Linked DNA regions of Homo sapiens: region 1 is linked to region 2. Evidence: fine-mapped expression QTL. A gene starts in region 2. The other region holds a variant in brackets. All regions are shown on one strand. Distances are between the middles of the regions.

What was found. PIP is the estimated chance that this variant, and not a neighbour inherited with it, causes the effect. A credible set is the group of variants that fine-mapping cannot tell apart.
Region 1: its variant is the best candidate, but not a certain one, in a credible set for the expression of LINC02898 in lung (TOPMed, PIP 0.67).

The regions. Positions count from the first base shown.
Region 1 is chr2:42,069,415-42,073,801 of GRCh38, reverse strand. No RefSeq gene overlaps it. Among named protein-coding and RNA genes, the nearest start is that of PKDCC, 24 kb to the right of the region's middle. The variant C/T (reference allele first, on the strand shown) is at 2,386.
Region 2 is chr2:41,951,386-41,955,772 of GRCh38, reverse strand. It overlaps LINC02898 (long intergenic non-protein coding RNA 2898), which reads left to right and starts at 1,967. Exons shown (of 4, transcript NR_161189.1): 1 at 1,967-2,046; 2 at 2,465-2,785. It overlaps LOC124905996 (a long non-coding RNA gene), which reads right to left. Exons shown (of 3, transcript XR_007086296.1): 3 at 2,724-3,162. RefSeq lists silencers at 1-10, 21-70 and an enhancer at 2,092-2,231.

The DNA of each region.
Region 1 (4,387 bases), 120 kb before region 2:
CAAGAGGTTGGGGTAAGGGGTGATCTAGTGACTACAGTCTGCCCTTATGGGGCACCCCAATATGGTGTCTATTCTCATTGCTCACACCCTTAAGTTTTGGAGGCCAGTGATTAAGAGCACGCATGTGTGACTTGGGAAACCATAAAAATGTGTGTGAAGCTTAGGAGCTAATGTACATGTACAAGCGAGGCTTAGCATCTTATGGAGATGAATATAGGTTCATTTCCTCTGTGAAGATGTGAGTTTAGAATAGATAAGCTTGAGCCTGGCTCCCAAGGTCACCCAGTCTCCAAGACAAAGTCTTCTGGGGTCATTGGCATGACAGAGGCCCAGAATGGAGTCTATGGAGGGGGTTGTTAGCCAAGCCTAAGGAGACATGTGGGAGATGAACCCAAGTTAGGGGCTATGGGGACCCTCACCTTCCTTCCTCAATTGAGGGAGTCTAGCCCTCTCTAGCCACGTCCCCTCCTGCAGACTGCTCCTTCCATTGGGGCACAGAGCAGAAGCCTAGGGACCTGTCACTTACCAGATGACTGTTGGAGGGCTGTTTAGGTTCTGATAGAGTGGGCTTTTCATTTTGAGAGTTGATTCTATTTCTTCATCAGTAAGTAGGAGCTAGGGAAGAGAAAGCATGCAAAAGGGCAAGAATCAGGAGAATTGATATAGTAGCTGGACAGAACTCTAGATGTGTGTGTGTGAGAGAAAGAGAGGCAGGGAGAAGGAGGGAGGAGTTACCCCCACGATGACCTCCAACTTCCCTTTCTGCACCCTCATCCTGGGGATAGCACAGGCTCAGGCCTGCCCTGGTTGCCCTGGCGATTGGCCTGGCCTGGGCTCAGGGGTGGGGGAGGGGCTGCACCACATTAGGACCTGCCGTACTCCAATCCCATGCAGTCCTCCTGCTCCTGCTGCTGCGTGCCTGGGCTCTGGTCATGCCAGGCTTCCTTGTGTCCTGCGTCTGTGGCCGGTTCCTGCCAACCTGTCTAGTCCTTTCAGGCTTGAGGCCCTGCATTGCTCTTTCTGGTCCTCTCCCCTCCTTCCCGCTCCCCATCTAGCCTTTTTTGGGTTCCGGGATCTGCTGACAGACTTTCTTCTTGCTGCCTGCCTGCTTACATTTCAGAAGACCCCTCTGGAACTGCCCATGGCTGTGGTCCACCTGCTGGTAGCAACGCCCTGTTACCAAATGCTAGATAATCTGCCACTCCCCTCTGCAGCCGCCAACTGGTGCTGAGCTGCCACCTGTTGTCTGTTTCCACACCCTTGTACACTGCATTCTGCCTGTCACTCTGGACAGCTGCCCAGCAGCTGCAGCTGAGGCCGTCCTGCCAGCACCTACCGCAGCCCCATGGGTGGTCCTGTCCAGTTCCTGGCGCTCCCAGCCTGCCTCATCTGCTGTACTTACAGAGCCACATCTGGTTGAATACAGAGCTGGGGTAGCCTGGATGGGCCCATGGCACACTCACTCCCAGAGAGGCGGGCATCCTCTCTCTGGACCTCTAGGGAAGGGCAGGGTCTGGAGCCCAATAATAAAACACAGTAATGATAATCATAGCTAATGTTTACTGAGAACTTAGGATGTGATAGGCTCAATGATTTACCAGAATTACTCTATACTGCATAACTACCCTATCAGGTAAGTACTATTAATATCCCCTTTCCCACATGAAGAAACTAAGGCTAAACAATAGAAATGAACCTGTGTAATGTCCCATGGGCATAATTCATGGAGCCAGGATTCAGAACCAGGTGCTTTACTTCAGGGCTGAAGCTCATAACCACTAGACCAAAGCGCCTCCTCCGTGACCTCTGGGGAAGGCCCAGCAACATCCTCTATTGCGTCCAATGACTTCTCCCTGGTCTGAGATCCACTGACTCACAGGGGTAGGGTTAAGGTTAAGGCCAGAGTCTCAGCTAAGCTTTGGATACTTTCTTCTGGATTTGGAGAAGGCTGGAATAACTGAATTTCTGCTCATCTTCAGGAGCGGCCTACTAGAGCCACACATTTCCCAGCTCTCCTTGTGTGTTTCCCAGACCCTTCTTCCATCGTGTCCTCTCCCTTAGGCTCCTGGAAAGTTTTCAGAGAGAATCACCCAGTGGTAACATTGTTAAACAAAACAGGAAAATGGGACTTGTGTGTATATATGATTAAATTATTAATTGATGGATCTACCTTCTTAGAAGGGTCAAAGACTGAATGAACAGAGAAGAAGAAAGGAGAGGGTCCCCTGGAGGTGGCAAAAGTCTTTTTTTTTTTTTTTTGAGATGGAGTCTTGCTCTGTTGCCCAGGCTGGAGTGCAGTGGTGTGATCTCAGCTCACTGCAAGCTGCACCTCCTGGATTCACACCATTCTCCTGCCTCAGCCTCCCGAGAAGCTGGGACTACAGG[C/T]GCCTCCCACCACGCCTGGCTAATTTTTTTGTATTTTTAGTAGAGATGGGGTTTCACTGTGTTAGCCAGGATGGTCTCGATCTCCTGACCTCGTGATCCACCCGCCTCAGCCTCCCAAAGTGTTGGGATTGAGCCACCGTGCCCAGCTGGCAAAAGTCGTTTTTGTTTATTATTTTATTTATTTATTTATTTATTTATTTATTTATTTATTTATCTATTTGAGACGGAGTCTCACTCTGTCGCCCAGGCTGGAGTGCAGTGGCGTGATCTCCGCTCACTACAAGCTCTGCCTCCCGGGTTCATGCCATTCTCCTGCATCAGCCTCCCAAGTAGCTGGGACTACAGATGCCCACCACCATGCCCGACTAATTTTTTGTATTTTTAGAAGAGACAGGATTTCACCATGTTAGCCAGGATGGTCTTAATCTCCTGACCTCGTGATCCACCCGCCTCAGCCTCCCAAAGTGCTGGGATTACAAGCATGAGCCACCGCACCCAGCCTATTTTTTATATTTTTTGAGATGGAGTCTTACTCTGTTGCCCAGGCTGGGGTGCAGTGGCATGATCTTGGCTCACTGCAACCTCTGCCTCCCGGGTTCAAGTGATTCTCCTGCCTCAGCCTACTGAATAGCTGGGATTACAGGCACCTGCCACCACGCCTGGCTAATTTTTGTGTTTTTGGTAGTGACAGGGTTTCCAGGCTGGTCTTGAACTTCTGACCTCAGGTGATCCACCCATCTCGGCCTCCCAAAGTGCTGGGATTACAGGTGTGAGCCAACACGCCCGGCCAAAAGTCTTTAAGGAAAAGAGGGAGGGGCTTTTTGGAAGAGGCAGTGGTGCAGATCACCTTGGCTTTAGCCCTGCCTCAAAGCAGCTATGGGGAGAGGAAAAGGAAGGATACGTGCTGGATTGGGGGTACTTCAGTTTCTAACAGAATAATTACATACAGGTGCTCCTTGACTCATGACATGATTACATCCCAATAAATCCATTGTAAGTTGAAAATATTGTAAGTTGAAGATGCATTTAATACACCTAATCTGCCAGACATCCAGCTTAGCCTAGCCTATCTTAAACATGCTCAGAGCACTTTAATTATCCTACAGTTCGGCAAAATCATTTAACACAAAGCCTATTTTATAATATGGGTTGAATATTTCATGTAATTTATTGAATATTGTACTAAAAGTGAAAAACAGAACGGTCGTATGGGTGCTCAGTGTACAGTTTCTACTGAATATGTGTAACTTTCACATGTTATAAAGTTGAAAAATTGTAAGTTGAACCATCATCATTTGGGGACCATCTGTACTGTGGATTGGTGAAAGGGATGGAGATGGTGTAGGATGGTGGTTTGGAGGGGTTAGATACAGGCATGACTACAACTGGGTCAGTTCACTGTTTCGTAGCGAAACAATGTTTGGTGATTTTTGCATCCCATTTATTCTTGGAAAAACAAGTTCTTGAGAAAGATATCAAGGGGCATCTCCTCTTCTCTTAGCAGCTTTCAGTTGTCATTCAGAAAGGAGACAGGTCTATTTTCTAGGAAGCCAGCATATGGGCTGCAGCCAACTCAGTCATACTGATATTGTAAGTCCTCAGTCCTACAATATGAGTACGTGGCTCTGCCCTGGGCCTTTCTCATTTGCAAGGCTCCTCCAGCCTGGCTGGGCTGGGCTGAGCTGGACAGGGAGCTGCTGCTCATCCCTCCCTCCTCCCGGGTTCATTTCTGTTTGGGAGTATGGGCAGGTTATGAGCTTCTGCCTTTTGGCTGTGCTTCCTGGGCACCAAGAAGGAAAAAGAAAAGGAAGGTATCTGTAGGCTCTAGGTTATTAGAGCCCAGGAGGGCAGAAGGGAGAAGGAAGGCAGATGGAGAGGAGGATGGACTAAACAGGCTGATGGATGGACAAATGAGCAGGCTCTCCCTCCTTGTCCAGCAGCAGAGGTAATGGTGGCATAAGGTGATGTGGATCAGGAACTGTCATTCAAAAGATGTGGACTG
Region 2 (4,387 bases):
GTAACAAACCAAGGAGACAGATATTATTAGCATTGCATATGAGGAAACTGAGGTTAAGGAAGGCAAAATAGTTTGTTGAAGCTCCAGTACCAAGTAAGAGGAAGAACTGTGGCTCCAAATCAGTCTGTCTGACTCAGAAGGTTGAGCTCTTTTCATTTTGAGGAGGGAGGTGGGAGAGAGAGAGGAAGAGAGCCAGAGGAGGTAGGAATATGGAGAGAAAAAGAATACCCCAGGGACAGGGTCTAAAAAATCAATACATAATGAAGCCTGAGCCATGGTGCTAACTCTGCCCCTGACTGTACATCTGACTTGCAGACACTTTATAAGTTGGCTCTCTCCTCCTCCCCACACCCCGTCCTTCCCATCCTCCCTTTCTCATTTTGCCTGGTGGAGGCCTGACCTGTCATGATGCTGCTGGAGTCCGGGTCTCCTCCATCTGTAACTGGGCTCTCACGGTGATGGTGGGGAGGCCAGGACCCTGCTTAGGGGCCACTGCCCGGGCAGGAGGAAACTCCCTCAGCCTCTGTCCTGAGCTGGGTCACCTGTGGAAGGGTGCCCAGGGCCCAAAGGTGAAGGAGGGCTGGCGCGGCTTCTTTGCCCAGGGCTGACCACTCCCAGCATCTCAGGCCAGCAGCCACCCAGCACCATCTGCCTCATTTCCTGTGCTTCCTCCTAGTGAGTGGCAGCTTGGACTCTTGGCTGCAGGCAGTTCTCCTGAACCGGTCACCAGGGCTCAGGATGAGCTATCCAGATGCATCTGTGACAATGTGGCTTTCATCTTCATCACAGTTGACCCCGTGGGAGGAAAGCCCCCTTTCTCCCACTTCAGCCCACATCTCTCTTCCCAGAACAGCAAACTGCCACCCAGGAGGGACTGCCGCTTCCCTGGTCGTGGGAAACTCTGCAGAACCTCCTCTCCTGAGCACTCCTGAGCGAAGAGCCAAGCCAGGGTAAGCCTGTGCATATAAGGCCTCAATTTTAGATTAGATTCCCAAATTTAATTTCCTATTCCTTAATTTAATTCTGCATTTTAGTTTTGTTTTTATTATTTACATGGGTTCCCTTTAATGATTCCAAATTGCTGCTGCCCTCTAGCAGAATTTTGTCTTATGTTAACTTCTTGAAAACTGATCAGCATTGGAGTTTATTCCACGCTGGGTTTAGTTATTTTCTGAAACGAAGCACAATTAAATTAGAATAATGAACATGCTCTTTAGAGGATTAATTCATAATTAGCAGGCCATGTGCTACAGCTCACAGAAGAAAGGGCACAAGGATCGAAAGCTGTTTTTTTCTGCCTAAATATGAAAAGTACATTCTGCAGAGCAGAACAAATCAGCTAATGACATCCAGAGCGCTGGCCAGCCCCAGAGCAGCATGGAGCTGGCACCTTGAGTTAGCGCAATCCCCACCGATGCTGCTGCCTACCTTTCCTCCCCGAGAAGGCTGGCAGCGGGCAATTTGCCTGGCTCTTCTCTCCTCAGCACAGCTGATAGAAGCCACTGTGGACCTCCTAAATTCTACCCCCAGGAAGCCCCAAACTCCACAGCCTGTGGCTTCACAAGCTTCATCCTCAGAGCTTCCTACAGCCCATTCACTCATTCATTCTTTCATCCAAGGAATGTTTTACTAGCTCCTGCTATACACCAGGCATCCATGGGATGGCCCACCCTCGGGATACATCAGGGAAGAAAACATACAAAGACCCCTACCCTTTTGGAAGTTATACTTGAGCAGGCAGAGACAGACAATAAATGGTAAAAATAATAAGTAAATTATGTATTATGTTAGAAGGTGATGAGTGCTAAAGAGGAAGGGGGGTTGAGAGTGGTGTGTGTGTGTGTGTGTGTGTGTGTGTGTGCGCGCGTGCCTGTGTGCTTTGCAGTTTTAAATAGGATGGGTCATGGTAGGCTTATGGGGAAGGTTTCAATTGAGCGAAGACTTGAAGGAAGTGAGAAAGTGAGTCACTTTCAAGCAAGTCACCCAGGTCAAGCCTGTTCTAGAAGAAACAACTATAGCAAAAGCCCTAAGGTTGGAGTGTGGCTGGTGAGTTCGGGAAGGATGGGGCCAGTGGGGGCTGAATGGAGGGAGTGAGTGGGAGATGAGGGGGACCCCATCAAGTGGGGCCTTGGGTTTTTCTCCGAGAGAACTGAAAGTCAGGGCAGGGTTCTGAGCACAGGCAGGACGTGGTCTTTTACTAAAGGATCTCTGGCTGCTGGCTGAGAACAGACTTTACAGGGTCAGGTAGATGGAAGGATGGAAGGTGGGAGACCTGTCAGAAGGCTCACAGCTTAGGCCTCTGAAACTCCAGCCCCAGGTTTTCCCATACCATGTTCTCTGGGCCTGCCAAAGTGCTGAGCTCAGGCCTCAGAACCAGGCACAGAGGCTTAGAGTCTCCTGCAGTCCCCTTTCTCCCAGAAGGACCAGTATATTTATTTTTTTATTTTTTTTATTTTTTAAACAGCCAGAGCTCACACATGGTGAGGATGTCCAGACCATTATTCCTCGATTGGGCCTGGAGACCCCTCTGCAGCCCCTCCCAATCTCTCCCACTGACCTACGGACCAGAAGGCTGGATTTTGCAATGGAAGGGAACTTGCAGGCAGCAGACAGCTCTGCACTGTCCCTTTGATTTTCCTCAGGCACCTCTGAGAGGGAGACACACTCTCAGCCAAGTACCCAACAAGGGACATGAGAAGGCTTCTGCTGTGCAGCTGCCAGAGAAACAGGGGACAGATCAAAGCAGGAGAGGACCAACATCTGCGGTAACCAAAGCAAGGACAAGGTACAAACACATTGAATGAATAAATAAGCAGATGAATGACTGATGGGTGGGGGGAATGAATGATTAATGCATAAATGAATGATTGATGAATAAACAAATGTATAGCCTGGAGCTGGCTCCTGCTCCCTGCTCTTTGGGTATCTTCTCTACTGGGAACCGAAGATTAAAGATGCTCCCGTGACCTTCACCTCTGGAATTCCCTGCTGGAGTTGGGATTACACCTGCTTCTGAGCCCAGAGGTTGGGGAGGCTTTGGCTTAGGATCGGTGGCCCAAGGCTGCAGAGATGTGCTGGCGGAAGGAGGCTGGAAGCAACTGGGGCTGGTCTGGAAGACCCCTGGGCAGCTTGTAGGTTCTGAGTGCGGAGAACTCCAAGGATCTGAGAGGAGAGAAGGGTGTGTTGGGAAGAGGGGAAAAGGAGTGGTTTAGTTTTTCCTTCCTGGTTCTACACGGGACATTCTGCAGATGCTGGGCCTTGGGTTGGTCTCATTCTAGGGCCTGTAAAGATACAGAAGTCTGTCTCAATGGAGCATTTGACTGTATTATCCCAAAAGGCAGGAAGATTTCGGTAATCGAAATTGTCAGAAGCTTCCCCAAAAGGGGCAGGCTGGTGAAGACTTTAGCTCAGGCCCAGGCACTGGCACCACCCAGACGCTTGATGTGCCCCCACTTCCAGAAGTTTGTCTTATAGTGTGGCCAGATCCCCATGCCTCTGGGGGAGAAGTACCCTACTGGGGGAGGGTTTGAGGAAGCAATGTTTAAAGACCCTGGGTCACATGGCTTCACTTCATTTTGGAGAAGCATCTTACCTGGGAATTCCCATAGAATCTAGTTTGGGGCCAAAAGACTGCTCCTAAAGAGTGCATGTACACAGTCCACTTTATGTTCTAGACTTTGATAATCATAATCAAAATGGCTTCCATTTATTGAGTGCTTACCAAGTGTTCGATGTTGGGTTAAGAGTTTTGGCTGGGCAAAGTGGCTCATGCCTGTAATCCCAGCACTTTGGGAGGCAGAGGTGGGCAGATCACCTGAGGTCAGGAGTTCGAGACCAACCTGGCCAACATGGTGAAACCCCCGTCTCTGCTAAAAATACCAAAATTAGCCATACCTGCTGGTGGGCACCTGCAATCCCAGCTACTCAAGAGGCTAAGGTGGGAGAATCGCTTGAACTTGGGAGGCAGAGGTTGCAGCGAGCCAAGATCATGCCACTGCACTCCAGCCTGGTGACAGAGCAAGACGGATAAACAGAGTTTTGCATTCTGACCGGCATGGTGGCTCACGCCTGTATTCTCAGTACTTTGGGAGGCCAAGACAGGCAGATCACCTGATGTCAGAAGTTCGAGACCAGCCTGGCCAACATAGTGAAACCCGTCTCTACTAAAAATACAAAAATTAGCCGGGCATCGTGGCAGGCACCTATAATCCTAGCTACTTGGGAAGCTGAAGCAGGAGAATCACTTGAACTCAGGAGGCAGAGGTTGCAGTGAGCCGAGATCGCGCCACTGCACTCCAGCCTCGGTGACAGAGCGAGACTCTGTCCAAAAAAAAAAAAAAAAGTTTTGTATTTGCATATCATTCAATTATCTTATGAACCCTGGGAT